Linked DNA regions of Homo sapiens. The protein of the gene in region 1 interacts with the protein of each later gene in a pairwise test. Each region holds a gene or a part of one and is shown on either strand. Other genes may lie near its edges. The genes, in order: MIA3 and SEC24C.

Evidence for each region.
Region 2: the proteins of MIA3 (region 1) and SEC24C interact in a two-hybrid assay, tested with the Homo sapiens proteins (one study listed by BioGRID).

The regions. Positions count from the first base shown.
Region 1 is NC_000001.11:222,649,069-222,665,694, forward strand, and holds part of MIA3 (transport and Golgi organization protein 1 homolog isoform 1 precursor), read left to right. Parts: intron 1-1,223; coding exon 1,224-1,312; intron 1,313-1,565; coding exon 1,566-1,643; intron 1,644-1,724; coding exon 1,725-1,835; intron 1,836-2,908; coding exon 2,909-2,980; intron 2,981-3,159; coding exon 3,160-3,264; intron 3,265-3,939; coding exon 3,940-4,062; intron 4,063-4,159; coding exon 4,160-4,271; intron 4,272-5,174; coding exon 5,175-5,230; intron 5,231-5,320; coding exon 5,321-5,411; intron 5,412-5,586; coding exon 5,587-5,725; intron 5,726-8,853; coding exon of another isoform or gene 8,854-8,908; exon of another isoform or gene 8,909-9,653; coding exon 9,654-9,755; intron 9,756-10,384; coding exon 10,385-10,445; intron 10,446-10,553; coding exon 10,554-10,589; intron 10,590-10,665; coding exon 10,666-10,733; intron 10,734-10,837; coding exon 10,838-10,938; intron 10,939-11,108; coding exon 11,109-11,246; intron 11,247-12,987; coding exon 12,988-13,056; intron 13,057-13,184; coding exon 13,185-13,264; intron 13,265-13,389; coding exon of another isoform or gene 13,390-13,461; and 5 more.
Region 2 is NC_000010.11:73,742,340-73,758,965, forward strand, and holds the start of SEC24C (protein transport protein Sec24C), read left to right. Parts: upstream 1-2,032; 5' UTR 2,033-2,098; exon of another isoform or gene 2,099-2,126; intron 2,127-2,841; exon of another isoform or gene 2,842-3,068; intron 3,069-4,290; exon of another isoform or gene 4,291-4,377; intron 4,378-4,465; 5' UTR 4,466-4,493; coding exon 4,494-4,665; intron 4,666-8,768; coding exon 8,769-8,904; intron 8,905-9,377; coding exon of another isoform or gene 9,378-9,384; intron 9,385-16,626. UniProt on the Homo sapiens protein: Component of the coat protein complex II (COPII) which promotes the formation of transport vesicles from the endoplasmic reticulum (ER).

The DNA.
Region 1 (16,626 bases):
AGAAGATCATTAATTTGGGGCAGATTGACCTTAAATGTTGATGTAGTACCAATTTATTACATGTGACCAGTGTCCCTGTGCTAATGATTTAGTCAGTACATTAAATATTTATTTAAGTAGATAATTTGAGAACTAGAAATATAAATCAGCACGCCTGCATTTTCTGTTTCTCTTTGCAAATGACATATTTGAAGTGATGCCATTTTCTGAGAAGAAAGATGCTTCATGCAGGGAGGAATATTGAGCTATAACATTTTACTGTATTTCCCATCTTGGAAATAAATTAAACTCTCATTGAAATAAAGGTTCTTATTATATTTTTCTTAAATTCTAACCGTATTTTTACATCCTTATTCTTGTTAGCAGATTGCTTTTTGTATTAATCTGTTCTCACACTGCTATAAAGAAATACCCAAGGCCTGGTGTGGTGGCTCATGCCTGTAATCCCAACACTTTGGGAGGCCAAAGCGGAGGATTGCTTGAGCTCAGGAGTTCGAGACCAGCCTGGGCAACATGGAGAAACCCCATCTCTATAAAAAAAATATAAAAGTTAGCTGGGTGTGGTGGCACACACCTGTAGTCCCAGCTACTCAGGAGGCTGAGGCAGGAGGATTGCTTGAGCTTGGGAGGCGGACTTTGCAGTGAGCTGAGATTGCACCACTAAACTCCAGCCTGGACAACAGAGCAAGACCCTGTCTCAAAAAAAGAAATACCTGATACTGGGTAATTTATAAGAAGTTTAATTAGCTCATGTTTCTGCAGGCTATAGGAAGTATAGCGGCATCTGCTTCTGAGGAGGCCTCAGGGAGCTTTTACTCACAGCAGAAGGCAAAGCGAGAGCAGGCCATCTTACATGGTGGGAGCAGGAGCAAGAGAGAGTGAGCGGGGAGGTGCTGCACACTTTTAAAACCAGATTCCACAAGAACTCAGTCACCATCACAGAATAGCACCACAGGGATGGTGATAAACCACTCATGAGAAATCTACCCTTATGATCCAATCACCTTCCACCAGGCCCCACCTGAACACTGGGTACTATAATTTGTTATGAGATTTGATGGAGACACAGAACCAAACCATATCACTTTTTAAAACCATAATAGTTATGCTGAGAAGTTATTTTTTGTCATAGTGCAAGATAACATGTCTTTGCTGCTGATACATTGGGTAATTCAATTTCATTTAGTGATCATAATAACCTTATTATTTTTTTCTTTTTTCAGTCACGGAACAGCAAATTTCTGAGAAGTTGAAGACTATCATGAAAGAAAATACAGAACTTGTACAAAAATTGTCAAATTATGAACAGAAGGTATGATTATTCTTTGTTTTTTTTTTTTTTCATGGTCCCAGCTTGAATTATTTGTCACCTATCTTATAGTTCAGTTACTATGGTATTTTTAAATAGTATTTATTATTACATTAATTCCTATAAACCATCCAGATCTTAAGCAGTCATATGTGTAAAGTACTGTTTTCTTCTGTAAGAGGTCAGTCACTTGAAAATAAGTTCTGGTAGCACTATACTTTATATTTCTGGATTCTGAATGCTTTATTTTATATAGATCAAGGAATCAAAGAAACATGTTCAGGAAACCAGGAAACAAAATATGATTCTCTCTGATGAAGCAATTAAATATAAGGTAAAAACTTCTTTTGGGGATTACATTTTAAAACAAAAGTAAAAGTAATGAGTATAACTAACCTTAATATCTTTTTTGTAGGATAAAATCAAGACACTTGAAAAAAATCAGGAAATTCTGGATGACACAGCTAAAAATCTTCGTGTTATGCTAGAATCTGAGAGAGAACAGAATGTCAAGAATCAGGACTTGGTAAGAGTTTTGCTGCTAAGTATTACTAATAATTTGGGTTTTGAACTCTTTTGTAGATTGAGTTGAACTCTTTATTTTCCATGCTGTTATGTGAAGTAAGAGTGCGAGTCAGGGAAGTTGAACCTACTTCTGTCCATTTTTGTGGAATTTTAAGTACTTACACAAGAAATTATTCTTACAGGCCTAGGAAGTATTTTGGTTCTCAACCCTAGGTAATTGTCATATTGCTTGGCTCTGCCCTCCGAAACATGTGGAACAACTAAGAAACCCAGTTGAACAGTCCTTGTGTTTTGTTTTGTTTTGCAAAGTTTTTTTTTTTTTTTGCTATAAACATTTTATTTTATTAATAGAATAGTTTTAGAATGACCTAAAAGTTGCAAAGATAGTAGAGAGGGTTCCATAAATCCCACACCCTATTAATCTTGATGACCTCGTTGAGGTAGTATTGCCAGGTTTCTTCACTGTAAAATTACTTTTTTTTTTTTTAAACTTTTTGCATTATTGTACTCTTTGGAAGGAAGTTACTATCGCAGCCCACAGTTAAAAAGTGAAGGGTTATGCTCCATCCTCTTGAGGAGCCAGAATCTTCATAAATTATCTAGAATTCTATATGGGTGATCTGTCTATTCTCACTCCAATCCTACCATTTTTAATTTAGGCAAGAGCAATTGGTGTTTGACAAAACAATTGTCAAATTGTACTAAATTAAAGTACCTTGGGGATTATTTTTTTCTCTTGCCACAAGAAAAAAAAAAGTCACATTGATTTGAACTGGTTTACTTAAAAGTTTTTTCAGTTTCTTTTCTTTCACCTTTTAGTCTGGTCATCTACCACATTTTATTCTAACCAGGAAGGTTGTGTATGCTGTGAAATATTTATGCCTTTGATTATTTTCCCTTACCTCTTTAAGTTCTTGATTTTTCCCGAGGGCAAAACTGAAACACCTGCTTTTACCTGAAACATAGGGGATGGCTCTGGGACATACTTTGTTGATGTTTCTTCTTCTTAGTATGTATCCCAGTGTTTCTACTAAAATCCTAATATGCATTTTGTGTTCTGTTTTTACATGGCAGATATCAGAAAACAAGAAATCTATAGAGAAGTTAAAGGATGTTATTTCAATGAATGCCTCAGAATTTTCAGAGGTAAAGCTGACTGTAATTCCTGCAGGATATTAATACTATATCATAGTTTGATTGCAGAGCAAAAATTTGATATATGCTAAAATGTGCAAAAAATGAAAACTACATGATGTTGGGTTGGAAAAGTAACTTTTTCTGGTTTTCTTTGGAATTAATTCACTAATAGGAGTGTTTTGCATTAGGTTCAGATTGCACTTAATGAAGCTAAGCTTAGTGAAGAGAAGGTGAAGTCTGAATGCCATCGGGTTCAAGAAGAAAATGCTAGGCTTAAGAAGAAAAAAGAGCAGGTAAAGGAAAGTGCGTGTCCCAGGTCATGTAAAATAGAGAACTCAGTATCATACCTCATGAATGCCTTTACTCAGATCTATTTTTAGGGTAATATATGTGCAGGATTCTGTTCTTAGATATGCAAAGTTTAAACTATGCTTCCAAAATTGAGTGTAGGTATACATTCTCTATCTGTTCTGGATTTTCTGTTCTGTACAATTTATTTTGGCTATCAGAGTGTGTAGTCTTGTTTTGTCAGACACCAATTGCTATTAACTTGAGTAGCCTCGAGTGGGTAGTAGATTGGCTTTTTAGACCCAAGAGTTAGATATTTTATAACCCTCCTTTGAGTAGTTACTGCTTCACTAGCCAAGGGAAGGTTACATGATCAGGAGTGTGGACTTGGGAGATAGTAGGATGAGCCCTTCTGTTCCTTCTGGAAGTGAATTATTTGAATTGGCTACAATTTTCTGAAGGATGCAATAAACAAGATCAATTTCCTTGATAGCTCTGATGTTCTCACTACAGCTCTGAGGGTTGGGGCCACTGTCTCCTCCCACTTAACCAAGGTCTTAGCCCATAGTGATAGGCCAAGGAGAGGCATGGTTCCTTATTTACCTGTCTCATTCATGTGGTCCTAATGTCTCCAGTGCAAAAGCCCTAACCTGTGGGAATCATGTGTTTTAACTTTGCAGTTGCAGCAGGAAATCGAAGACTGGAGTAAATTACATGCTGAGCTCAGTGAGCAAATCAAATCATTTGAGAAGTCTCAGAAAGATTTGGAAGTAGCTCTTACTCACAAGGATGATAATATTAATGTAAGTGCGTTCATGAATACAAGCTTAATTCTTGTGAATTATCAAATCTGTTGAATTAAATGGAAAGACTCTTAATGCCCTTTTACTTCTTTTCTAGGCTTTGACTAACTGCATTACACAGTTGAATCTGTTAGAGTGTGAATCTGAATCTGAGGGTCAAAATAAAGGTGGAAATGATTCAGATGAATTAGCAAATGGAGAAGTGGGAGGTAAGATCAGCCTCAAGGAGGATGGACCCCTTTTGCCTTCCTGTCTTTAAGTGCACCAGTGCTACTTTTCAGCTGGCTGCATTTCCTCTTAAGCTTTCGAGGTGTAAATACATTGGATTTGAATGTGTGTCTGTTTGCATTGGGCAGAGGTGGATTGCTAGGGTGAGGTGTAGCAGTAAGCATGCAGTGAACACTGACTTTGTTTTCACATTGAGACTAGAAGGGTGCACGGGAGCTGCACTGGTCATGTCTTACACCTCTAAGTATTGGACACATACAGTAGTAGAAACTTGTTTTTCAATTTCATGGAGATAACATTTTAAAACTTGTCATCTCAGTAGCTGTGTGGTTTTAAGGCCCACAACTGGTTTTAAGAGTACTGAGGTGGTTGGAGGCATAAACTGACTAAGGCCATGAAAGAAAACCACAACTGGTTTTGAGAGTACTGAGGTGGTTGGATCCATAAACTAAGGCCATGAGAGTGGAGGCTATAGTGTTGCAGTGTTTACTGATGAGGAAAATGTTTCTAGATGCCCTCTCTCAAGTTGGATATTGCTTGTGTAGTGGGTGTTTTAAACCACACCTGGTAGTAGATTCTGGAGGAGAATAGGAGGGAATCTTTCTGAATAAGACACTAAGCCCAGATGGAAGAAAGAGCTTTATCTCACATGTTTCTTCTTGCTCAATAATGGCATGTATAACATGTTTATTGTACAAATGGGAATTCACTTTTTCAGTCTTAAGTTTGCAGTTCTCTTAAAAGTCAGTCTAATCCTTTTCTGTTTTTGTTTGTTCTTTAAATGTTTGAACATGACAATTGTTTAGTTTTGGGTAAATCAAGAAAATATAGATTTAAAAAGCAAGGGAAGAAAAAGCAATGAAAGAAAGCCTTTTGTTTTTTAGGTGACCGGAATGAGAAGATGAAAAATCAAATTAAGCAGATGATGGATGTCTCTCGGGTATAATCGTTTTTAGAGTCCCATAATTGCCTGTGAATACTTTTACTATGCCTCACTTTTATGAATACTTGTCTCTTCTGCAATTTTTAGACACAGACTGCAATATCGGTAGTTGAAGAGGATCTAAAGCTTTTACAGCTTAAGCTAAGAGCCTCCGTGTCCACTAAATGTAACCTGGAAGGTAGGTTGCTTCTTGAGAAGAAATTGCTATATATTGGAAAGATACAAAATTGCATTAGAAAGATAAAGAGCGGCTTCCTGCTTTCATACTTCTCATTTCTCTCAGCACCAGCCCCCAACCAAGTTCTCAAGTTCTTGTGCACACATATGGAACTCAAATGTTTTATCCTTTACAGACCAGGTAAAGAAATTGGAAGATGACCGCAACTCACTACAAGCTGCCAAAGCTGGACTGGAAGATGAATGCAAAACCTTGAGGCAGAAAGTGGAGATTCTGAATGAGCTCTATCAGCAGAAGGAGATGGCTTTGCAAAAGTAAGATTATCATCATTTACTGTTAACTGTATTGTCATGTCAGTAAATAAATGTGTACTAATATAGATAATGTTATCGTTTTTCAGGATTGTACTCTTTTGCATCTGTAATTAGTATAAATTTGTCTTTCTTTCTTTCTGCTTTGTTTCTCATAAGCTGCATTTTTCTTTCCTTTCTAACCAGTAGTCAAAAACTGTTGCCTGTAACTCACTTAAGGGGGAGCAGTGTACTGGTACTGACGGTCGCTGCTGTGGGAGTGCTTCTCTTTTGAAGATCTGGCCATGCCTTGTCTGTGGCTCCGCCACTTGTTTCACTTTCCTTTCTTTGTGGTCAATTATGTAATTTCCTTTAAACAGTCTGAGGGATTTGTATGACGTGTTTTAGTAGAATAAAAACTTCAAAAAAGGAAAATTTACTTATTGAAGGTACATTTAGTTTTGGACTTCACAGAGTAAAATATTCAAACTAAACATAATTGTGGCAAAGATATTAGGAGTTTTGAATGTAGAACTATTTGGTGTGTATATTTAGATAATAATCCTCTGAAATACATATCTCAAATTTCGAGCGAGGTACCTTTTGAGAGGTATATTTTTATAGTTCAAGTTTTTTGTCCACAAAAACATCTGAATTCTCTAAAAATAGGTTATCTGTGGCAGTTGCTATTTGTGTTTGCTCTTATGTTTTACTCTTTGGTGTATATGGCAGTGTGTGAGGAGGCCTCTCTTGCTAAGCAAATTTAACTTTTTTAAATGCTTAGACTGCTACTGCTGTATGCCATTAAATATTGAAACCATACCATTAACTTTTTCTCTAATTCTTTGCTCACCAGGCAGCCAGTTTAGATTTTCCAGGTTTTGTTCAGGCCAGCTCTAAATAAATGCCTGTCCTGCTTCAGAGAGACATTCCTCATTTCATTACTTTTTAAAAAAGAGCACTTCTCTGCCTCCAATAGTAATGTGAATTACGTAAATGGCAACTGTTTTTCTTCGTGATACAGTTAACCCATTGATGTGGCAGTGTTTTATTCAACTTCCCCAAAATTCATTCAGTCTCCATGTGTGGTTTGTACTCTACTGTCCACCCCTAAAGTCACTGTGTTAATTCAGGCCCTTGTCATCTTTTATGCCAGTCCCCTAGCTAATCACGTATCTCCAGACTTTCTTTCCCTTTTTTTTTTTTTTTTTTTTTTTTGAGACAGAGTCTCACTCTGCCGCCCAGGCTGGAGTGCAGTGGCGTGGTCTCAGCTTACTGCAAGCTCCGCCTCCCAGGTTCATGCCATTCTCCTGCCTCAGTCTCCCGAGTAGCTGGGACTACAGGCGCCCGCCACCATGCCCGGCTAATTTTTTTTGTATTTTTAGTAGAGATGGGGTTTCACCTGTGTTAGCCAGGATGGTCTCAATCTCCTGACCTCGTGATCCACCCGCCTCGGCCTCCCAAAGTGCTGGGATTACAGGTGTGAGCCACCGCGCCCGGCCAAAGAATATACTTTAATGCAGGTTCAGTGAGTTTACTTTTGTATGAAAATGTCTTTAGTTTGACTCCATTTTAAAAGGATCTTTCTGCTGGTTCTGGAATTTCGATAGTTGTTTAGTATCAGCACTTTAAAGATAACCAGTTATCCTCTAGTTTTAAAGTTTCTTTGAGGAATCTATTATCATTCTTATTTTCTCTTTTCTCTTTTTTCAAATGTTTTATGCCTGCCCTAGCTGCCTTTCGTCATTTTCTTTTTGGTTTTTCAGCAGTTTTCTTGGGAGGTGCCTACATGTAGGGTTTTGTCATCACCCTTCCACCCTACCCTCCTGCTTTTTCTTTTGCATTTATACTGCTTGAGGTTATAAACATCTCTTGAGTTTGGAGCCTCTTTTTTCACATATTAATTCTATCTTATTCTCACTTGTCCTGAGAATCCAATTCAACATACTAGGATCTCCCACCCCTACCCCTCGCCCAATGCCTCCTACATTCTGAATATGCTTCATTCTGGATGTTTTCTTCTGACCTATCTTCCAATGTGCTAAAAATCTCACCTCAGTTGTCTAATCTGCTAAAATCATTGAGTTCTTTTTGGTTTCACTATTTTTCACTTTTATAGTTTCTAATCCTCTGCTGAAATGTGTAATCTTGACTTGTACTTCCTTCAATTTGTAAGGCACAATTGCTTTAAAATCTATGTGGTAATCCTATTATGTGGATCCCTTATGAGTGTGTTTCTCTGGTCTTCTAGATTGTGATTACATTGTCTTGTCTTGTGGAATGTCTGGTTGGTTTTGATGGAGTGGTGAACATTGTTTTTGAAAATTGTAGGGGAAATTTGAGGTCTAAGATGATGTTATCATCCTACATAAAAGATATGAGATTACCTCTAGCAGGTGGTCATTACTTTATTCCAGTTAGCAATTAAAATCATTCAAAAATGGCTTAGTTCCTTTAAAGGACATTGTATTTATTGCCTGTTCAATACTCCAAGTGTGCAGCTCTTTTCTGGTCTCAACCCAAAGCCTAGGGCTTTTACTAGGGGTCCTTCTCATTGGCAGCCCTGAACTCCCTCCGCTTCTTGTTTCTCTCAACCCAGGGATCTGTTGAAAGTTCTTTTCAACCTTCTTACATATCTGCATTGTCTTCAATGCATGGATGAACCTGGGGGGAAATGGCTTAAAATGCCGGGCTTACTTATAATTCTGTGTTTTTTCCTACTGGATTTTCTTCACTGCCTTATTAGCTTTCTGATGCCTTCGAGCACATTCTTTCTATTTTTGTCCATATGTTCTTATTTTCAGTGTTTGCAGACTAACTCATCCATTATTGGAAACAAAATTCTCTTGAATCCTTCTTCAAGACTTGTTTTTTCCACATCCCTTCCTAAGCCAGAGTCAGAGAGGGATTGTTCTGTTCTTATATGCACCTTTTACACATTCAGCTGTGAGCTCCATTAGTGCAGAGGTGGTACTTACCATAGCCATACCTTTATCTTAGTCTCTTACAAGGTAATTAGTATAACCACTCATAAAATATTTGCTGAAGTATTTATTGAATGAGCAGTTGTAAAAGAATACATAAACTTTTTTCTCTTTGGTGTTAATAACCCTTTTTACTATAGCTCCTCTATTTTTGTTTCCAATTTATAGAAAATTTGCAAGTATCTTTTGCATCAGAACTATGAGTAAAGAAGTACAAGGGTAACTACAAGTAGCACTTTTAAACCATTAAATGTTGCTGCCTTTACAATCTGTGTTATAGTTGGCTAACCTCTTGAGCTTGAAGGTTATCAGGTTAAAACCAATTTCCAGTACATAGCACCCTGATTACAGGACAGTTTGGATTCTTTTTCTGTTCAACAGACATTGCCAGTACTCGGATTTGTCTCGCTGCTTTATCATGATTCCATTGAAATAGGTAGGGGAGCTCCATATCTGAAGTGTGAAAATGTTCTGGGGTTAATTGTACAGTTAAGGACATGTTCTAAAAAGCTCTTTCATTGGCTGTCTTTATCATGGTACCAGCCTTGGATTGAGAAACAGCCCATAAGAAAATTAATTAGTGGTCTTTCCATGGTTAGAAATAAGAGAATTATCTCCTGCATCATCCTAATAAGCTTAACTGTGTTAGGTTGATCAGTCCTGGCTTTCTACATTGAAGAAAAGTGAGCATCATTTCAACCCAACAGTCTTTGACACATAGTGTTTTTTCACATTTGTTTCATTTACTAGTGAGGAGAGAATTATGAGACGTTAGAAAATGCAGGTGATGTATCAACAGGCCACAGTTGGATTTTTATCCTAAAGGACAGTTTTATTTCCTTCCTGTGACTTTGTATAATCTATGCATTTTTAAGAATAGGATAGGAAGTGAGATTTTATTGGAGTATTCAGACAGAATGCCAGGAGGAAAAGAGAAACACTTTCATTGACAACCAGTTTTATCTTAGGAAACTGAGTCAAGAAGAGTATGAACGGCAAGAAAGAGAGCACAGGCTGTCAGCTGCAGATGAAAAGGCAGTTTCGGCTGCAGAGGAAGTAAAAACTTACAAGTAAGTTCACCTCCTAAAGAGGGTATCAGTGGCTAATGAAACTAGTGTTGGCTTTTTTTATTAGCACAAAAGCATAAATAAGTGGTTAGAGGACATGAATACATCAATTCACACAAAAGAAAAACTAAATTTTAAGTTAACAAATGGAAAAATATTAACAAATACCCAGTGCTGGCAAAACTGTAAGGGAACTTGATTCGTGCAAACAGTTCTGGGGGTTGGAGGGGGTGGGAGCAGTTTGTTATATGATGTATCAAAAGCCATTAAAGTGATTTTGCCATTTGATAGACCCAGTAGTCCTAACTTTGGGAAAATTTTTATGATGTAATTAAAGGATGAAAAAAGGTTTATAGTGGAAGATATTAATAATAGGATTATTTGAGAACATATTTAGGAACAGTTAAAGGAATTGTAATATATCAACTCAATCTCCAGCTGTTAAAGGAAATTATGTATCATTAGTTTTCATCATATTGTACTTTTGTTATAACCAACCATGTAAAATATGCTTTATATTTCTGGATAAGCTCTATTAGGGTACAGTTGTTAGGGTAACGGTTAACATAGTCAGATTGTTTGGGTTTTTATTCAGTTGTGCTTTAAATGATAAAGCCAAGTGTAATTCTTAGGCGGAGAATTGAAGAAATGGAGGATGAATTACAGAAGACAGAGCGGTCATTTAAAAACCAGGTAATAATTCTAGTGCCCTACTATATAGTGCCCGGAATTCTTTGATAACTAATAGAGGCTATTATAATGAATCTGTATGCATATTTTGTGATGTATTATCTTTTTCAGATCGCTACCCATGAGAAGAAAGCTCATGAAAACTGGGTAAGATTTCTTTTTTTCTTTCCCTTATTTTGTGCATAGTCTCCCACAACTGAATTTGGATATTTTTCTTCAATAGCTCAAAGCTCGTGCTGCAGAAAGAGCTATAGCTGAAGAGAAAAGGGAAGCTGCCAATTTGAGACACAAGTATGTGGATTTTGATGGCTATATTTTCAGCGCGTGTTCTCTTAAGGAATTGGTTTCTATTTCATATTTAACTCTTTCTTAAATATTCTTTCTCTATATTCAAGATTATTAGAATTAACACAAAAGATGGCAATGCTGCAAGAAGAACCTGTGATTGTAAAACCAATGCCAGGAAAACCAAATACACAAAACCCTCCACGGAGAGGTAAGGGAGCTACCTTGTAAAGGGCAACAATCTGTTTTTTGATGTAAAATGTATATAAGTGACTTTTTGTTTCTGTGTGTAATGGTTATGGTACCCTAGGAATAATCCCAAGAACTGAATAAAGAAAAAAAGGCTGTCTTAAAATGCTAACAAGATGCTGTCATCTTTAGGTCCTCTGAGCCAGAATGGCTCTTTTGGCCCATCCCCTGTGAGTGGTGGAGAATGCTCCCCTCCATTGACAGTGGAGCCACCCGTGAGACCTCTCTCTGCTACTCTCAATCGAAGAGATATGCCTAGAAGTGAATTTGGTGAGCATTCACATGTTTCCTTGCAATACTCTTTTGGGTGGCTTTTTCCCTTTTATTTGAGAATTCTAATGCAAACACTTTAGAATTCGGGTCTGTCCAGTATAGAAAAGAAAATTTCTTAATTTGTCTTGGTGGATTCAACTGCAAGTATTCAACTGCAAGATTTGCTTTAGAACAGAAGGCATTTATTATTTTCCTTTATTGTTTTGTTTCTCTTTAATTTTTTACTCTGAAGTGTAAGCCCTTATCTTTCAATTAAAGTTCTGTGGGATTCCTCTCCCAAATACAGCTGACCCTTGAACAACACAAGTTTGGTCTGTGCAGGTCCACTTCTATGCAGATTTTTTTCAAAAAATATTTTGGGAAATTTTTTGGAGCTTTGCAATAATTTGAAAGAACTTGCAGATGAACCACATAGCCTAGAAATATAAAAAAATTAAGAAAAATTTATGTATGTCGTGAATGCATAAAATATATGTAGATACTAGTTTGTGTTATAAACTATTGGAAAATATACAAAGATCTATTTTAAAAAGTTAAAATTTATCAAAACTTGCACAAGCACAGATGTACATGACACCATTCACAATTGGGAAAAAGTAAACACATGTAAAGATGCAGTTTTAAATCATAAATGCATAAGATTAGCTGTAGTACATACTGTAGTACTACAATAATTTCATAACCACCTCCTGTTGCTATTGCAGTGAGCTCAAGTGTTGTGAGTATCCGCTTAAAACACCGTGTGATGTTAATCTGCATGTGGGCAGTTCATCTCTCCAGTAAATTGTGTATCACAGTAAACATAATCTCTCATGGTTCTTGTGTATTTTTCATGTTTAGTGCAATAACATAAACCTTGAATAACACCATGGGACCCATATAAAATGCCACTAGTGATGCTGGAAGTATTCTCAAGAAGCAAAGTCATGACACTACTAGAAAAAGTTGAATTGCTTTGATATATACCATAGTTTGGAGTGTGCAGCAGCAGTCATTTCAGTCAGACGATTCATCTTGTAAACAGACCATGTACACGTACAGTACAAATACAATACAGTGTTATAAATACATTTCCTCTTCCTTATGATTTCAATAACATTTTCTTTAGCTTACTTTATTAAAGAATACAGTATACAATATATATACAGAATATGTGTTAACTGTTTATGTTATTGGTAAGGCTTCTGGTCAATAGTAGGCTATTTACTAGTAGGTAGGTTTTGGGGAGTCAAAAGTTACACGTGGATTTTTGACTGCGCAGGGGATCAGCACACCTAACCCCTGCATTGTTCGAGTCAACTGTATTATAAAAGTAGCCTTAATAACTTTATCGTTTATGCGGCATACATGTTTCCACTTGTCATTACTATATAGTATGAAACGCTGTTGAGTCTATTTTGAATCCTAAATATGTCTATAATACTCAGTAAGATACGGAAGTCAGATTACATATACACTGAACAAAAATCACCATGTAGAATACTGTACATGTAAGTCTGTAGCTTGAAGTATAGAACCAGAGCCATTAATGTGCAGGGTTTATTGTTCTTTCAGTGCAAGGCAGTTCTTATTTTAATTCTTTAAGTCCGTGCATAAATTGTAAGTGATTTCCCTTCATAAATATTGGGAGACCCATTTTTAATGTTGCTTTCCAGATAAGACTTGAACCCTGATCTGTCCACAATTTATTATTTCTTCCAAAAAATACATATAAGGACTCTGTTATTTCTTTCTCAAGGATCAGTGGACGGGCCTCTACCTCATCCTCGATGGTCAGCTGAGGCATCTGGGAAACCCTCTCCTTCTGGTAAGGGAGCAAGAGTGTTCAAAGAGTCTAAAACCATGCAGGAAGTGGGGAGAGGATTTTTTTTTTAATCCTCCTCACAGAGTACACAAGTCAGAATAAGTCTACATCAGTTCTCTGGTCTTTAACAGATCCAGGATCTGGTACAGCTACCATGATGAACAGCAGCTCAAGAGGCTCTTCCCCTACCAGGGTACTCGATGAAGGCAAGGTAAATGCACCCATTTTGAATAATTAGTTATTTCAGGAACATTTAGCTCTTCCTACAACTCTCTCTTTGCCTCATCTCCTATTTGTGTGTTCTATCTGTACTATCTCATTTATTTTTTAAAAAAGCAAACTGTTCTCCAAGAGCCTGAAGTCCCCTCAGTTCCCAGCATTACATCTTTGGCTGAGCGTCCAGTAGCAGTAAGTACTTAGAAGTGTGGACTGAACTGGGCTATAAGTTGCATGGCAATATTGATCTTACTTTTATCCTTGACTTGGGAGTGTTGCTGAAATCTGACGGATTCATTGGCCTTTTCTCCTCTCTCCTGTTTGGTTAGACATTTAACCTGTGTAGAGCATCTGCTGTAACTGTAATTAACTTAAACAAAAGTGAAAAGTCCCCACTCTTGTGTGTCTCAGTGTTTAATGCTCTTAGGCAAAGTAAATTCATTGTAAATTGTGTAATTCATTATTATGTCTTCATTTGGAAGTGTGCTATTTAAGAATACCTACAGTTGTATACTAGGCAAACCCTATTTTGAATGATCTGAAATTACAGATTGATAACAGAAGAATGTTTGCTGGAAGTGAAATACTGAATAGTGGAAGTCTATAATTACCCGTTGAGCCAGTTCCCAGCAGTGTCCTTAAACAGTGTCCACATAAGTGTATTCTCTTGTAACTTGTATAGCTGTTATGGCTGGTAAGTCCTCTGATCATACCTCACTGTGATTCTCGACATTGAAATTAAAATAATTTTAATGATTGAGAGTTTCCAACCCACTTTCCCATAGGAAGTGATTAATCAGTATCTCATAGTAGACAGTATTACTAGTGAATGAAGATGAATAGAGCTGTGCCTGTATAATTTGTGTACATAACATTGTTTCTCTTGGAAAATACTTCCAAGTTCCAGCACAGGACTCCAGGAATACACATTTCTTGAGAAATGTTTTTATCCAAGAGCAGCTTGGATAAGACCCGAGACCCCTTTGAAGTAGGAGACTTCGAAGAGTGTAGAGACTACTTTGTTAGAAAGGAGAAGCAGAGGTGGAAAGAACGTGGCCTTGGAGTCAAACCTGGCATGGAATTCCAGCCAGCCTCTTACATGCTGTGTGACCATCAGCAAATCTAATACTCTCTGCGCCTGTGTTCCTGCATATTTAGAACAAGATGGTCCTATTACAGATTTAGAGATGTCAGAATTTGTGTTAATATATGTAGGGCCTACAGAAGGTACTCTGAATAATCGCTGTTACATGGTAGAGAATGGATTTTTCATTCCCTTTCATTCTCTGCATTCTTAATATGGAAATTACTCTGATAGGAGGGATGTGCAGAGGGAGTGACTGCCTTAGAAATAGATGTATGAATGGCGTAACTTCTATCATTAGTCAGGAATGACCTCCATTTATAACCTGTGCGTTCCCTTCCATTTGCAGATGTAAGCAATAATATGATACAGCAAGTGTTCACTCCTGTGGCATACTTTTAACCTTTCTAAGCTTGTCAGTGGGAACAAATGAGAGGGGTAGAGTTTTTTGCACTAATTCTGCTCTTTGGACAAGTGCCTGACATCTGCTTCATTGGGTTTTAGTTTTTACTGGTGTTGGTGCTTTTGTCTGTCATACCATAGTATTTCAAAACTTCAATTGTTTCTACTCTGCAGGTTAATATGGCTCCAAAAGGGCCCCCTCCTTTCCCAGGAGTCCCTCTCATGAGCACCCCCATGGGAGGCCCTGTACCACCACCCATTCGATATGGACCACCACCTCAGCTCTGCGGACCTTTTGGGCCTCGGCCACTTCCTCCACCCTTTGGTAAGATGATCTGAACAGTAGTAATTGACTTGTAAAGCACATTCATCTTCTCCATCTATCCCTTGCTAAAACAACTGCAATTGCGGGGCTTTGCAATGCAGCAGTGAAGCTGATTGAGTACACCGTAACTTTTCCCCAAGTTTCTTCAGACACAAAGGGTGCTACATAATCTCCTGTGATTAGATGGGCAATAGTTGTCTCTAATAGAACAAGGAAAGGGGCTATTTATAAAAAGCCAGAAATATTCATCACATTGAACATCTGTGGCTGTGTACTAGGCTCTGCAATGGATAGCAAGGTAGATAAAATACATCCCCTAACTAAGATGTCCTGTAGGTCACAAATATACACATTCTACAACATAAAGCTTCTAATCACCCATAATGGAAGCATAAGCAGTAGGTCACAGAATATTAAGGAAAGACAAAACCCTCAACCCTCACCTTGGGAATACAAAGAAGGGAGATATGAAAGAGAAGGTAGAATTTAACAGCTATCTAATGAATGCTGCTGAATTTAATTAGATGGAGCTGGAAAGCCTTTTCCAGCAGGGCAAGCACCTTAATTTTTATGGCATTTATTAGGTACATCTTGAGCTACTGCATAAATTTTTAACTGATACACAGTAGTTAATGGAATTTATCAAAATTTTTATTGCAATGAAGCCATATTTAGTCTGTCTTCTTGGTATGGTATATAGTACTTCCAAGTACAAATCTATCTCTCTTTTTCAGATAAAGATGGCAGGCCAGGCACAGTGGCTCACGCCTGTAATCCCAGCACTTTATGAATCCCAGCATTCATTAGACGAGGCTGAGGCAGGTGGATCCCTTGAGCCTAGGAGTTTGAGACCAGCCTGGGCAACATGGTGAAACCCCCATCTCTACAAAAAATCCAAAAATTAGCTGGGAGTGGTGGCGTGCACCTGTAGTCCCAGCTACTGGGGAGTCTGAGGTGGGAGGATTGATTGAGTCCGGGAGATTGAGGCTGCAGTGAGCCATGATCACTCATTACACTCCAGCCCATGTGACAGGCAAGACCCTGCCGCCAAAAAAAAAAAAAAAAAAAAAAAAGGATGACAGACTATATTAACATACCTGGCATTATCTTAATTTAAATACGTTCCTAGGAATTTACTGGAAATAATTTTTGTTTTCCAGGCCCTGGTATGCGTCCACCACTAGGCTTAAGAGAATTTGCACCAGGCGTTCCACCAGGAAGACGGGACCTGCCTCTCCACCCTCGGGGATTTTTACCTGGACACGCACCATTTAGACCTTTAGGTTCACTTGGCCCAAGAGAGTACTTTATTCCTGGTACCCGATTACCACCCCCAACCCATGGTCCCCAGGAATACCCACCACCACCTGCTGTAAGAGACTTACTGCCGTCAGGCTCTAGAGATGAGCCTCCACCTGCCTCTCAGAGCACTAGCCAGGACTGTTCACAGGCTTTAAAACAGAGCCCATAAAACTATGACCTCTGAGGTTTCATTGGAAAGAAAGTGTACTGTGCATTATCCATTACAGTAAAGGATTTCATTGGC
Region 2 (16,626 bases), on another chromosome or scaffold:
AACATAGCAAAATCGTCTCTAAAACAAAACAGGCTGGGCGCAGTGGCTCACACCTGTAATCCCAGCACTTTGGGAGGCCAAGGGGGGCGGATCACAACGTCAGGAGATCAAGACCATCCTGGCCAATATAGTGAAACCCTGTCTATACCAAACATACAAAGATTAGCTGGGGTGGTGGCGCATGCCTGTAATCCCAGCTACTCGGGAGTCTGAGGCATAAGAATCGCTTGAAACCAGGAGGCGGAAGTTGCAGTGAGCCAAGATTGGGCCACTGCACTCCGGCCTGGAGACAGAGCAAGACTGTCACAAAACAAAACAGAGGACAAGAACAATCTGCTTGTTTAGTAAAGCATGCTCAATGCCTAATATATAGTTTCCAGCACAGCCTAAAGTGCAAATTTTTCAGTGAATAAACCACTCTGTGCCTCAGAATAACTGATATTTACTGTCAATAATATGAGAACAAACACTTTTGTTCACTGCTCTATTTCCAGACCCAAGAACATGGCTTGGCACACAATGTCAGCGCTCAGTGGGTTCACCCTGCCTGCTGCCTTGACAAAGCTGATTTATCAAGACCAGGGAATTGCAATGGAGAAAGAGTAATTCACGCAGAGCCAGCTGTGTGGGAGACCAGAGTTTTATTATTACACAAATTAGTCTCCCTGAGCATTTGAGGATCAGAGTTCTTAAAGATAATTTGGCGAGTAGGAGCTTGGGAAGCGGGGAGTGCTGATTGGTCAGGTTGAAGACGGAATCACAGGGAGTCAAAGTGAGGTTTTCTTGCTGTTTTCTGTTCCTGGGTGGAATGGCAGAACTGATTGAGCCAGGTTACTGGTCTAGGTAGTCAGCTGATCCAATGAGTGCAGGGTCTGCAAAACATCTCAAGCACTAATCTTAGGTTTTACAATAGTTATGTTATTCCTAAAAGCAATTTGGGGAGGTTCAGACTCTTGGAGCGAGAGGCTGCATGTCCCCTAAACTGTAATTTGTAATCTTGTAGCTAATTTGTTAGTCCTGTAAAGACAGACTGGTCCCCAGGCAAGAAGGGGGTCTTTTCGGGAAGGGGCTATTATCAATTTTGTTTCAAACCATAAACTGAATTCCTCCCCAAAGTTAGTTCCACCTACACCCAGGAATGAATAAGGACAGCTTAAAGGTTAGAAGCAAGATGGAGTCGGTTAAGTCTGATTTCTTCCACTATCATAATTTCCTCAGTTGTAATTTTGCAAAGGCAGTTTCAACAGCAGTGCTCGAAAAATTATGAAATCAACAAATAGTACTGAAAAGTTCAAATGAAGTCATATATGAAAAAGAAATCCTAGCACTGTTAGCTATAATTACTTAGCCATTAAATGGGGTACTAATAATTACTGCAGGAACTATCTTTTCCAACAGAGCGCAGAGATCTTTTGGCTCTGATAAAGCTCTGCACCTAAACAAAGGCGCTGTATAAAAATGGTTAATAACAATTGACCTTTACTGAGTGCTTACTATGATGCCAAGCGGCCTATGTGGCCTAATTTCATCCTCTGGGCATTATTATTTCCATTTTACAAGCTGTAGAGCCAGACCTCAGACCCCCACATGCAGGTTGACAACAGTTGGTGCCCTTTACCACCACCACACGTTCCGCAAATCTCATAACCAGCAAACGCCATGGGTGAGAGCAACCTAGCGGACGGAAATCAACGGGGTCAGGGGTCACCAGGAAGTGACTACAAGACTCTAGCTCAGAGGTCACTAATACGTCACAGGCAGAGTGAAGGGGCATTATTAAAGATAGTTTGACAAATTCTTTTTAATCTCATTTCTGTTGGTGAGGCCATAAAGTGACTGGAACATCTGAAAAAAAATGTCAGGAGGGAAATACATACGACTCAGCAGAGGCGCACAGGCGGCGGCCATGATGGGAAGATGAAAGAGGCGCATGCGCGGCATCCGGGTCCCCGAAATGCAGACGTGGCAGAAGAAGTGGCCCGGCCCTAAAGCGTGGAGGAGGAACTTCCGGGGGTGACGGGACGGCCCCCTCGGAACCGGAAGTGGAGCCTGGGAGCCTTGACGTTAGGAACGAAGTCTAACCTGGATCTGGAGCCGGGTGAGGAGTGGCATCGGGAGGTTGGCGGGTAGGAAAGCAAAGGAGAGGTCAGGGTATTACTGGCCAGATTGGGGTCCGGTTTCAGAAAGAAGGGAGGAGCCTGGGGGCGGGGCCTGGGTAGAGACCCTCACCTCACGCATCCACCATCCAGGAGCAGGTCCTAGACCATCCCTTCGTCTCCCGGCCCAGATTCCGGCTCCTGCTTCCTGCCCCGAGCCTGTTAAAAGGTGCAAGACGTTTGGTCTCTGTGCTTAACAGAGCAGCCCCCTCTCTTAACGTGGCCCTAGAAGCCGACTTGGCTTCTCGGTTTTGATCCTCGGCTCTCCGAGGCTCCATGGCTTGACTACTTTCAGAGTTCTAGGAAGCTTGCCCCGCCCCCTTGGGTTGTCACCCTCGACTATCCACCCAGAATGGAGTCGAGACTTCAGTCTGACTCCAAGCTCTTGAATGTGTTTGAGGGGATTATTTTCTGGAGAAGAAGCTCCTTTCTTTACCCCTCCCCCCGGCTTTGGAAACATAAAGGGAGAGGACATATTTTAAACTTAGTGTCAGTGACCTACCTCTGTAAGGTTTAGGGTTTGGAAGAACAGCTATTGAGATAACTTTGAGTTTAAAGAGTTTTAGACCAGGATCAGCTCCTTTTCTATAGTCAAGGTGGCCCTTCTAGCAAAGGGGGAGAGGTCCATTGTTCCCTTTGCAGCAACTCTGAGTGCTCCTGCTTTCTGGGCCCCTTCTGTCTACAGGATAATTGGAATGATACAGCTGTTGAAAGTAGATGTGATGAGATAGTTTTCTTGGAAGGACCCTGTTTAGAAAAGGCCCTCTAATTCATCCCTGTGTTGATGAGCAAGATTGTAATAATTTTGATGGTGGCTGAGATTCATAACAATCGTAAGGGGAGCAGAAACAGGAGAGTTGGAGAAGTGCATTGGAATTTAGAATATTCATAGTCTTCTGCTTGAGGGATGAGGTGAATGATTTTTTTCCATGAAATCTAACTCTAACTTTGCCCCTGATTCTTGAACTGTTTCCTCAGATTATGTGAAGAAGTTTTGGTGCCTGTTCTGCACTTGGTTTTAATCTGTTACCTTGCTAGAGTTTTCAGGTGTCCTTTATTTTTTATTTTTTTGAAAGGGCGTCTTGCTCTATTGCTCAGGCTGGAGTGCAGTGGCACGATCTCGGCTTATTGCAATCTCCGCCTCCCGGGTTCAAGCGATTTCTCCTGCCTCAGCCTCCCAAGTAGCTGGGATTACAGGCGTGTGCCACCATGCCCGGCTAGTTTTTGTATTTTTAGTAGAGACTGGGTTTCACCGTGTTGGCCAGGCTGGTCATGAACTCCTGACCTCAAGTGATCTGCCCGACTTGGCCTTCCAAAGTGCTGGGATTACAGGCATGAGCCACTGTGCCTGGCCAACTTTTATTGATTTTAATGCTTCGGTTTTGGCCGGGCGTGGTGGCTCACACCTGTGATCCCAGCACTTTGGGAGGCCAAGGTGGGTGGATCACGAGGTCAGGAGATCGAGACCAGCCTGGCTAACAGGGTGAAAACCTGTCTCTACTAAAAATACAAAAACTAGCTGGGTGTGGTGGCACGCGCCTGTAATCCCAGCTACTCGGGAGGCTGAGGCAGGAGAATCGTTTGAACCCAGGAGGTGAAGGTTGCAGTGAGCCGAGATCGCGCCACTGCACTCCAGCCTGGCAACAGAGTGAGACTCCGTCTCAAAAAAAAAAAAAAAAAAAAAAAACCTTCAGTTTTAAGGTCCATACACTCTTTTGGTGGAAAGACTTGGGTTGGAGTATCATTTGTATTATGGCAGTTTAGCTAAAGAATGTCATTTCTGTAACTCAGCCTAAATTTTGTCATTGAGGGGGAAGGATTTTAGCAGATCTGTTTTAGATTTTTAGCCTGATTGATTTTAAATCAATTGTTCAGCACACTAGAGGGTACTCGATGTTTGCTGAATGAATGGATGCTAGAGTGAATGAATGGAAAGTGGGAACATTGTTTCTTTCACCTGTAACATCAAGGTAGTTCATCAGCCACAAGACTGTGTGACTAGACACTAGAAATCATACCACTGGGGAATGGAGGCTGCTGCTCCATTTCAGTGGATCTGTCTGAAGTTGAAATTTATACTATTTAGACAGTGACAAAGGGTGGATGGTCAGAATAACAAAATCCTTGCTTTTAGGAGATAATCTGAATGCTGGCTGGGGCAGAAAATTACTAAGATCCTGTGGAAGTGTGAGGATTATTAAACTGATCACTGTCTGATAAGGTCAATTTCTTTTTATCTCTACTTCCTGCCCTGAATAGTTGCTCTCTTTAGAAAGTTCATTTTGACTAATTTCTCCTCTCTCTCACAGGTGAGATCAAATTGGGAATGCTTTCATAATGAACGTCAACCAGTCAGTTCCACCTGTGCCACCATTTGGGCAGCCCCAGCCCATCTACCCAGGGTATCATCAGTCCAGCTATGGTGGGCAATCAGGGTCCACAGCCCCCGCCATTCCCTATGGAGCCTACAATGGCCCAGTACCAGGCTATCAGCAAACACCTCCCCAAGGTATGTTTCTGTTTCTGTTTCCTTTGAGCTAGGGAGGGAAATCAGCAGAGTCTTCAGGTTGGGTTGTATTGCTCTAGCTAAGCTACCTGAGAAGTTTGGATAACTGGGATTGAGGAACATAAATCTGGCCCTGTGTAGCTGAGAGCCCCGTGGGCGCCCTTCCCTTCCCTTTTTTTATTATTATTTTAATTTTTTTTTGAGACAGTTTTGCTCTGTCACTCATGCTGGATTACAGTGGCATGATCTCAACTCATTGCAACCTCTGCCTCCTGGGCTTAAGCACTTCTCCTGCCTCAGCCTCCCCAGTAGCTGGGATTACAGGCATGCACCACCACGTCCAGCTAATTTTTGTATTTTTTTAATTTATTTTGAGATAGAGTCTCTCTCTGTCGCCCAGGCTGGAGTGCAGTGGCACCCTCTTGGCTGCAACCTCCACCTTCCAGGTTCAAGCAGTTCTCTGCCTCAGCCTCCTGAGTAGCTAGGATTACAGGCATCCACCACCACACCAGCTAATTTTTTTGTCTTTTTAGTAGAGATGGGGGTTTCACCATCTTGGCCAGGCTGGTCTTGAACTCCTGACCTTGTGATCTGCCCGCCTCAGCCTCCCAAAGTGCTGGGATTATAGGCGTGAGCTACCGTGCCTGGCCTGTATTTTTTTTTTTTTTTTTTTTTGAGACAGAGTTTTACTCTTGTTGCCCAGGCTGTAGTGCAGTGGCACGATCTCGGCTCACCACAACCTCCATCTCCTGGGTTCAAGTGATTCTCCTGCCTCAGCCTCCCGAATAACTGGGATTACAGGCATGCACCACCATACCCTGCTAATTTTGTATCTTTAGTAGAGATGGGGTTTCTCCATGTTGGTCAGGCTGGTCTTGAACTCCCAACCTCAAGTGATCCACCCACCTCGGACTCCCAAAATGCTGAGATTACAGGCGTGAGCCACCACACCTGGCCACTGTTTGTATTTTTAGTAGAGATGGGGTTTTACCAGTGGCCAGGAAGGTCTTGAAGAACTGCTGACCTCAAATGATCCACCAGCCTTGGCCTCCCAAAATGCTGGGATTACAGGCTTCAGCCACCACGCCCGGCCCCTTCCCTGTTTTTTTATTTTATTTTACTTATTTTATTATTTATTTATTTATTTATTTTTTGAGACAGTCTCGCTCTGTTGCCCAGGCTGGAGTGCAGTGGCACAATCTCGGCTCACTGCAACCTCCGCCTCCCAGATTCAAGCAATTCTCCTGCCTCAGCCTCCAGAGTAGCTGTGATTACAGGCTCCCGCCACCATGCCCGGCATTTTTTGTATTTTTAGTAGAGACAGTGTTACACCATGTTGGCCAGGCTGGTCTCGAACTCCTGACCTCAAATGATTCACCCATCTCGGCTTCCCAAAGTGCTGACATTACAGGCATGAGCCACCACCTCTGGCCTTATTTTTAATATTTTTTGAGATGGAATTTTGCTCTTGTTACCCAGGCTGGAGTGCAATGGCACAATCTCAGCTTACTGTAACCTCCGCCTCCCAGGTTCAAGTGATTCTCCTGCCTCAGCCTCCCAAGTAGCTGGGATTACAGGCATGTGCCACCACACCCGGCTAATGTTTTGTATTTTTATTAGAGATGGGGTTTCACCATGTTGGCCAGGCTGGTCTCAAACTCCTGGCCTCAGGTGATCCACCCGCCTCAGCCTCCCAAATGCTGGGATTACAGGTGTGAGCCACCGTACCTGGCCTTATTTTTTTTCTTTTTTATTTTTGAGCTGGAGTTTGGCTCTTGTTACCCAGGCTGGAGTGCAATGGCACAATCTCAGCTCACTGCAACCTCTGCCTCCCAGGTTCAAGTGATTCTCGTGCCTCAGCCTCCTGAGTAGCTGGGATACAGGCACCCACCACCACACCTGGCTAATTTTTTGTATTTTTAGTAGAGATGGGATTTTGCCATGTTGGCCAGGCTGGTCTCGAACTCCTGACCTCAGGTGATCCACTTGCCTCGGCCTCTCAAAGTGCTAGGATTACAAACGTAAGCCACCACGCCCAGCTGTCTTCCCTGTTTTTAGATAAGGTACTGTGTTTCTGCCTTAAGCCATCTAGTGGGAACACATCTCCCAGGTTCACTGACTGTTCACTTCCTGTGGGTATCACCTTGTGCAGCCTTACCTGGTCACATTGTTCAGAGCTAAATGGAAGGGTTGTGGTCCACACCCCTCTAGATCCTGTGACCAGGACCGAATATTTCCTGTTGACTTGTAGTCTCCTTGAAATAATTTATTCGTCATATATGTTGAGAAAGCCTCTTGTTGGACTGATGATTCTTATGTATGAATGACCCTGGGACAGTGTAGTTTATGGGGGTGAAAAGTGTGATATTTGTGTGCCTGACTTTTGGTGCGTCTCATGTCTTCTGATATCCATCCTTTTCCTTTGCTTGAGTTTCCTCTGCTTCTTAGATGCTCTGTAATGTCATGGTAATAAGATAATACTAATCTGATGCTGTTCTAGGTTCAGTGTTTGGCTTTTAACCTTACCTTTTCTTTTTCTTTTTTTTTTTTTTTCTTTTTGGAGACAGAGTCTTACTCTGTCACCCAGGCTGGAGTGCAGTGGCACGATCTTGGCTCATTGTAACCTCTGTCTCCCGGGTTCAAGCAGTTCTCCTGTCTCAGCCTCCCGAATAGCTGGGATTACAGGCACATGCCACCACGCCCGGCTAATTTTTATATTTTTAGTAGAGACAGGGTTTCACCATGTTGGCCAGGCTGGTCTCGAACTCCTGACTTCGTGATCCACCTGCCTTGGCCTCCCAAAGTGCTGGGATTACAGGCGTGAGCCACCACGTCCAGCCTTACCTTACTTTCTCAAGAAGAGCAGCTAGTACTCTACCGATTCTCCAGAGGGGCTTTTTGGAAATAGTTAACAGTAGATCTTTGCTTAGGCTAGCCGATGATTTAGGGTATGCCAAACTCTATGCTTTCATAAAGAGATATGGAAAAAAGAAGGCATCAAGGAGGTACTGGTAAGATTTGGGAAATAATGAAGTATGATGATTTTAACTGTGGGGAAAAAATATTGTGATGAGATTAGGCCCCAGGTCTTTGGAAGAACCTTAATTCTAAGCTGAGACTTTGGCTGGACAGAGTCCACCTCTGCTTTGTCAAGTGCTCGAGTTTGGCATTCTCTCATGAGAAAGCTTTGTTAGAGGAAAACATATCTGATTCTGTCATGGTTGGTGAGCAAGTTTAGGCTAATCATGTTCCTGTAGGCAGGTTCTATAATGTCTAATCTCTACTGAGGGCAGAGCAAAAGAAAAGCATTCTTTGAACAGAGGTCATCCACATTTCAAAAGTGATGTGCCAAGTAACTAATTGCTTTCTCCCTGAACTTCATATGTGAAGAATGGCTAAGGGTAGTGTAAGTAGCTTTGGTGGTGGTTCTAAGGAATAGGAAGGATGGAGTACAGCTTTTGTGAGGACATAGGTGGCAATGCTGATGGGAGGACAGGCCAGCTGTCCTTACTGAACTGTTGGGCAGAAACAAGGTCTCCGATCTATAGGAACACGTTCCTGAATCGTGCTGTTTCATGTTTTCACACTTAGAAGTGGATGAAAGGATATAGTTAGTGTAAGCAGAATGAATGAAGAAGAAGGTGGCAGAATAATCTCCCCAAGAGATGCCTTTCTTTGCAGCCTAGTTCCGTATATTACTTGGTCATCTTCTGAGTCTCCTTTTTCATATATGCTCCAAGTTTCTGAGTTCTGGAGTAAGATCTTTTCCTTAAAAGGGTTGGCTTGTTGTCTAGGGTAAGAATATCAGGCAGTCTTGGATTGACTGAGAGTATGGTGATCAAAGGAAGGCCCTACATTCTTGTGCCTCTGGCTACAGCTTCACCCCTAGTATGCTTGTCTAGGGGAGTGTAGGCCCCTTGTTGGGAATCTGTGTTTAGAATACTGCTGTAGCTACAGTTGTATGCTGGTAGTGTCCTTTTCACTGCCTAAACTGTGGTATTGGGCCAGTGAAGGTCTGAGTTTATTGATCCTTGCTTTGCATTCCTGGCTCAGGGTGGAGGAGAAAGTTATTTCCCAATCACTTAGTTTCTGTCCTTTACCCTCAGGTATGTCAAGAGCCCCACCTTCCTCGGGGGCACCTCCAGCCTCAACAGCACAGGCTCCTTGTGGCCAGGCTGCATATGGCCAGTTTGGCCAAGGAGATGTACAGAATGGGCCAAGCTCCACTGTTCAGATGCAAAGGTAGGTACTTGGTCAATCTAAAATTGGTCTGATGAGGCTGAGTGCAGTGGCTCATGCCTGTAATCCCAGCACTTTGGGAGGCTGAGGTGGGTGGATCACCTGAGGTCAGGAGTTTGAGACCAGCCTGGCCAACATGGCAAAACCCCATCTCTTTTCTCAAATAAAAAATTAGCCAGGTGTGGTGGTGTGCACTTGAAATCCCAGACTTGGGAGGCTGAGGCAGAAGAATCATGAGGCAGAGGTTGCCGTGAGCCGAGATCGTGCCATTGCACTCCAGCCTGGGCGATAGAGTGAGACTCCGTCTCATAAATAAATAAATAAATAAATAAATAAAATTGATCTGATGAAAGTAGAAAGGTTAGGAATGTATGGGGGTTTGTGTTTTGTTTTGTTTTTTTTCTCTCCTTTGCCTTTCTTGTAGATCACTTTTTCTCTTCCCTCTACCCTTTTGTACTTTGTCTTCTTTTTTCCAGGTTACAGGTACTGCTGACGTCCAGCCCTGTGGATTATTGACCCATCTTAGTACCTGGGTTCCTTTGCATATTCTTCATTTTCTGTGAACTTGAGTTTCTTGCTTTACTAGACATACATCTTCAATAATGGTTGCAGTCCTGTTGAGACTACCCTAAGGGAGAAATGGGAAGAGGAAACTTCAGGATTATTTGCATCTCTTTTGACTTGCCCCTTTCCTCTAGAACAGGCACTTAGTAGGACTGATTGGTTAAGTTTGGGCATGGCCAGTTATGAACTGAAAGATACTAAAAGGGAAACCACATAAATGGTGAAAACTTCAGTGGTACAGTGACCCAATAAACCCATCTTAGCATGAAAGTCCATTAAAGGAGGGCAGTCATCTCTATTAGAGTGCTTTTTAAAATTTTTTAATTTTTTTTTTTGAGACAGGGTCTCACTCCGTGGCCCAAGCTAGAGTGCAGTGGCAGGATCACAACTCCCTGGAGCCTGGATGTCTCAGGCTCAGGTGACCCTCCCACCTCAGTTTCCCAGGTAGCTGGGACTACAGGCATGCGCCACCACACCCAGCTAATTTTTTGTATTTTTAGTAGAGATGGGGTTTCGCTGTGTTGCCCAGGCTGATCTCAAAACTCCTGAGCTCAAGCAATCTGCCCACCTTGGCCTCCCAAAGTGCTAGGATTACAGGAGTGAGCCACTGCACCTGGTCAGGAGTGTTGTTTGTGTTTGGTAAATAAAGAGTAAAATATAACTGTGGGAAAGGGGTATGATAATAGAAAAGTCACTTTCTGACACTTTAACTGGGTGTCCAGAACACACATTTTAAGCATTGAATGTAAGCCTGGGTAAGTCAAACAAGTGGGGTACATAGAAGATAACAAGTACACAAATGTACATAAAGTTATAAAACAGGGTGAGGATATAGTGAGGGGGTAGGGAGCTGTTTTAAATACATTGGTCCGTGCTGGGTGCAGTGGCTGACTCCTTTAATACCAGCACTTGGGGAGGCTGAGGTGGGAGGATTGCTTGAGCTCACAAGTTGAAGGCTGCAGTGAGCCATGATTGTACTGCTGCACTCCAGTCTAGGTGACAAAGCAAGACCCTGTCACAAAAAAACAAAACAAAACAAAAAACCCATACGAAACAAGCATATGCCTTAGTAAATTATTATATAGCAAACTCCTTTGTAACTACAACTACGACCCAGATGAAGAAATAGAACTTTGCCACTCACCCCAAAAGCCTTTTCCATGTGCCCCAATTCAAACATTATTCTCTCCCTCCCCTCATAAATAACAACTATCCTGCATTATCCTGACTCTTACAGTAATTACTTTCTTTTTCTTTTTTTTTGAGACAGAGTCCTGCCCTGTTGCCCATGCTAGAATGCAGTGGTGTGATCTCGGTTCACTACACTCTCCAGCTCCTGGGTTCAGGCGATTCTCCAGCCTCAGCCTCCCGAGTAGCTGGGATTGCAGGCGCCTGCCATCAGGCATGGCTAATTTTTTTATATTTTTAGTAGAGACAGGGTTTCGCCATGTTGGACAGGCTGGTCTCGAACTCCTGACCTCAAGTGATCCACCCGCCTCAGCCTTCCAAAGTGCTGGGATTACAGGTGTGAGCCACCACGCCCAGCTGACTTTCTTGTGGTTTTTTAAAAATAGTTTACACTTGGCTGGGTGAGGTGGCTCATGCCTATAATCCCAGCACTTTGGGAGGCCAAGGTGAGAAGATTGCTTCAGCCCAGATTTTTGAGACCAGCCTGTGCAATATAGGGAGACCCCAATCTCTACAAAAAATAAAATGTTAGCTGGGCATGGTGGCAAGCTTGTTGTCCTAGCTACTTTGGGAGGCTGAAGTGGAGGTATCGTTTGGGCCCAAAAGGTCGAGGCTACACTGAGTGTGATCTCGCCACTGCACTCCAGAGCTTGAGAAACAGCGAGACTGTGTCTCACAAAGAAAAAGTTTACACTCAAATGTACAACCCCACGTACCACAATTTAGTTTTACCCACAGGAAAAACACTTGGTGTGTCTTAAGTCTATAAGCTCCACCTCTGTCTTCTTTTTCTTAGTATTTATCTGTTGAAGAAAACAGTTAACCCAAAGAATTTCCCACAGTTTGGACTCTTTACATAACATTTACATCACACTTGTCCAACTTGTGGCCCACAGTCTGCGTGCCCCAGGACGGCTTTGAATGTGGTCCAACACAAATTCATAAACTTCCTTAAAACATTATGAGGTTTTTTTTTTTAAGTTCATTACCTGTCATTAGTGTAGTGTTAGTGTATTTTATGTGTGGCCCAAGACACTTCTTCCAGTATAGCCCAGGGAAGCCAAAAGATTGGACACCCCTGATTTACATTGTATTAGGTATTATAAGTAATCTAGAGATGATTTAAAGTACATGGGAGGAGGCTGGGTGTGGTGGCTTATACCTGTAATTCCAGCACTTTGGGAGGCCAAGGTGGGTGGATCACCTGAGGTAAGGAGTTTGAGACCAGCCTGGCTAACATGGTGAAACCCCATCTCTACTAAAAATACAAAAATTAGCTGGGTGTGGTGGCGGGCACCTATAATCTCAGCTACTTGGGAGGCTGAGGCAGGAGAATCGCTTGAACCCAGGAGGCAGAGGTTGCAGTGAGCCAAGATTGTGCCACTGCACTCCATCCTGGGCGACAGAGTGAGACTTCGTCTCAGGAAAAAAAAAGTATATGGGAGGTTATATGCAAATATGATGCCGTATAACCCACATCCAATTCTATTGATTCCACCTTCAAGATGTATCCCAAATCTCACTACAGTCATTCCTCAGTATCCATGGGGGAATGGTTCCAGGACCTCCCCTGACCAACAGATACCAAAATCCACAAAGGCTCAAGTCCCTCATATAAACTCTATTCAAGTAGAGATGTTAGGTAGGCAGGTGCATATACAAATCTGCAGCTCAAGACTGATGCTAGGACTGGAGATAAAAATTTGGGAGTCCTCAGTCTATAGATATTTAAAGCCGTGGGACTAGATGAAATCATTTAAAAAGTGAGTATTGAGATTAAAGAATGGAATTGAGGACTGAGACTTGGAGCTTAGCAACATTTAAAAGTAAAGAGGAGCCGCCATTAAAAGACAATGAGGGGCCAGGTGCAGTGCCTCACTCCTGTAATCCCAGCACTTTGGGAGGCTGAGGCAGGCAGATTGCTTGAGCTCAGGAGTTCGAGACAAGCCTGGGCAACATGGTGAAACCCTGTCTCTACCAAAATACTAAAATTAGCCGGGTGTGGTGGCACATGCCTGTGGTCCCAGCTTCTTGGGAGGCTGAGGTGGGAGGATGGCTTGAAACCAAGAGGCGGAGGTTGCAGTGAGCCGAAATCGCACCGCTGCACTCCAACCTGAATGACAGAGTAAGACCCCATCTCAAACAAACAAAAAAAAAACAAAAGACAATGAGAAAGAGCAGTAGTGAGGTGGGAGATAAGCCGGGAGAGTGTGGTGTCCTGAAGTCAGGTGAAGAGAGTATTTCAAGAAGGTGAGAGAGTAATCAGTTGTGTCAGATGCTGCCAAATTGTAAGATGAAGATGGAGAATTGACCATTGAATTTGGCAAGGTTGGCGTCATTGGTAAAGGCAGTTTCAGTGTAGAGATAAAGAAAACTACCCAGTTGGAGTGAGTCAGAGTTTCAGGCCAGGCGCGGTGGCTCATGCCTGTAATTCCAGCACTTTGGGAGGCCGAGGCGGGTGGATTACAAGGTCAGGAGATCGAGACCATCCTGGCTAACACGGTGAAACCCCGTCTCTACTAAAAATACAAAAAATTAGCTGGGCGCGGTGGCAGGCTCCTATAGTCACAGCTACTTGGGGGGCTGAGGCAGGAGAATGGCGTGAACCCAGGAGGCAGAGCTTGCAGTGAGCCGAGATCTTGCCACTGCACTCCAGCCTGGGCGACAGACAGCGAGACTCCGTCTCAGGAAAAAAAAAAAGTTTCAACCGGGTGGTAGATTGACATAATCTGAAAACCCTCTGCTACCAAAGTCTAGAAAGGAGAGAGAAAATAGAAACAAAAAAAATTTTTAAGTGCAAAGTTAAGCTTGAAAGAAAATGTGAAATTCTTAAGTTTTAGAGACCAAGTGAGGACTGAAAATCTTTTTTTTTTTTTAAATACAGAGTCTTGCTCTGTCGCCCAGGCTGGAGTGCAGTGGCACGATCTCTGCTCACTGCAACCTCTACCTCCCAGGTTCAAGCGATTCCCCTGCCTCAGCCTCCCAAGTAGCTGGGACTACAGATGTGGGCCACCATGCCCGGCTAATTTTTGTATTTTTAGTAGAGATGAGGTTTCACCGTGTTGGCCAGGCTGGTCTCAAACTCCTCGCCTCAGGTGAACCGCCCACCTTGGCCTCCCAAAGTGGTGGGATTACAGGCATGGGCCACTGTGCCTGGCCATCAAGTGAGGACTGAAAATCAGAGTGGTAAATTGACTCTGGAGCTGCCTGTAGATTGGGTGGATTCATCATCTTGAGAAGCCAGGGCCTTAAATTTAAGCAGGTACTGGGGAAGGCAGATGAGTCCTTGGGCTTTCCTGAGAGTAGTTTTGGAACTGAGACATTGTTTATAAAGTCTGGACCTGGGCTGCACCTTCATTGAACAAGCTGACTAGGGGAAAAAAGTCTGCACGCTGGAAAGGGGAGATAAGGAGTGCTGTTTCTCTCAGGCTGGCTGTGGATGGGTGAAAAAAAAAGTTCTTGGGACTGCAAATGGACATGACATCTTTTTGGAATGATGAAAATGTTTTAAAATTTGATTCTGGTGATGGTTGCATAACTAAATTTACTAAAAATCATTGAATTGTTCACTTGAAGTGAATTTAATGGTATGGAAATTACATCTCAGTAATATTTTTTTTTTTTTGAGACAGAGTTTTGGTCTTATTGCCCAGGTTGGAGTGCAATAGCACGATCTCAGCTCACTGCAGCCTCTGCCTCCTGGGTTCAAGTGATTCTCCTGCCTCAGCCTCCCAAGTAGCTGGGATTCCAGGCATGACCACCATGCCAGGCTAATTTTTTGTATTTTTAGTAGAGACAGGGTTTCACCATGTTGGCCAGGCTGGTCTTGAACTGACCTCAAGTGATTCACCTGTGTTGGCCTCCCAAAGTTCTGGGATTACAGGTGTGAGTCACTGTTCCTGGCCAATTTTTTTTTTTTTTTTTTTTTTTTTTTTTGAGATGAAGTCTCGCTCTGTCACCCAGGCTGGAGTGAAGTGGTGTGACCTTGGCTCACTGCAACCTCCACCTCCCAGGTTCAAGTGAATCTCCTGTCTGAACCTCTTGAGTAGCTGGGATTACAGGTGTGCACTACCACGCCTGGGCTAATTTTTGTATTTTTTTAGTAGAGATGGAGTTTCACCATGTTGGTCAGGCTGGTCTTGAACTCCTGACCTCAAATGATCCATCTGTCTCGGCCTCCCAAAGTACTGGGATTACAGGCATGAGCCACTGCACCTGGCCTAATTTTTTTTTTTTTTAAATTAGAGGCCAGGTGCAGTGGCTCATGCCTGTAGTAATCTCAACACCTTGGGAGGCTGAGACAGGAGGATCACTTGAGGCCAGAAGTTTTAGACCAGCCTGGGCAACATAGGGAGATCCTGTCGCTATAAAAAAAAAAAAATAGCTGAGCATTGTTGGTGTGCCTGGGAAGCAGAGGTGGAGGCAGGAGGATTGCTAGAGCCCTGGAGGTTGAGGCTACAGTGAGCCATGATGGCTTCGCTGCACTGTGGCCTGGGTGCCAGAGTGAGACCCTGTCTCAAAAACTAAAAAAAAAAAAAAATCAATCTAGGGTGACACTGTCATTATTGGAGTACCTTCTGGAAACAAATGTAGAACAACCACACCTCAGTCCGGGCTGGAAGGGATTATCGGAGAAAGGCACTTTGATTAGAGTTGGGCCAGGCACAGTGCTCATGTTTGTAATCCCAGCACTTTGTGAAGCCGGGGTAGGAGTTCAAGACTATCCTGGGCAGCATAGCAAGACCCTGTCTCTACAAAAAATAAAAAAAATTAGCTAGGTGTGGTGGTGTGTGCCTGTGGTCTCAGATACTTGGGAGGGGAGGCTTAGGGGGAGGATTGCTTGAGCCCAGGAGGTCAAGGCTGCAGTGAGCCACAGATAGTGAGTGCCATTGTACTCCAGCCTGGGTGACAGAGCGAGACCCTGTCTCAAAAAAAAAAAAAAAAAAAAAAAAAAAACGTAAGGCTGGGCACGGTGGCTCACGCCTGTAATCCCAGCACTTTGGGAGGTTGAGGCGGGCGAATCACGAGGTCAGGAGTTCCGAGACCAGCCCGGCCAACATAGTGAAACCCCGTCTCTACTAAAAATACAAAAATTAGCCAGGCATGATGGTGGGCACCTGTAGTCCCAGCTACTCGGGAGGCTAAGGCAGGAGAATTGCTTGAACCCAGGAGGTGGAGGTTGTGATGGGCCAAGATCGCACCACTGCACTCCAGCCTGGGCGACAGAGTGAGACTCTGTCTCAAAAGAAAAGAAAAGAAAAAAAAAAGTAGAGACAGAGTATAGACCTATTCTTTTGTAATGTTTAGCTAAAAGGGGAGCAAAAGTTTGAGGGGGCTGTGAGGTAATTTGGTTGGATTTTTAAAAAGTTTTTTGAGATATAATTCATATACTGTGCAATTCGTCTGTTTAAAGTGTTTTTGTATATTTAGTGGTTTTTAATATATTGACAGATATGTGCTGTCACAATTTAGTATATTGACAGATATCACTACAGTCAGTTTTAGAACATTTTCATCATCTGAAGAAGAAATACTGCATTCTTTAACTACCCCTGTTTAGCTATTCCCCCATTCCCCTATTCTTCCAACCTTAAGCAACTCCTGATCTACTTTCTGTCTCTAAAGATTTCCCTATTCTGGACTTTTCATTAGAATAGAATCATATACTATGTGATATTTTATAACTGACTTCTTTAATTTAGCATAATATTTTCAAAGTTCAACTATGTTGTAGTGTATATTAGTACTCCATTCCTTTTTGTGGTTAAGTGGTTTTTCATTGTGTAGCTACATGCCACATTTTGTTTATCCATTCTTCTGCTGATAGACATTTGGGATGTTTCCACTATAGTTGGTTTTTGTGTGTGTGTGTGTGTGTGTGAGATGTTTGTATGTTTTTGTGCTGATGGGAATAATCAGAGAGGGAGACACTGAATGGAAAGTATATTGGAAAGACACTGTGGTAGACTGAGG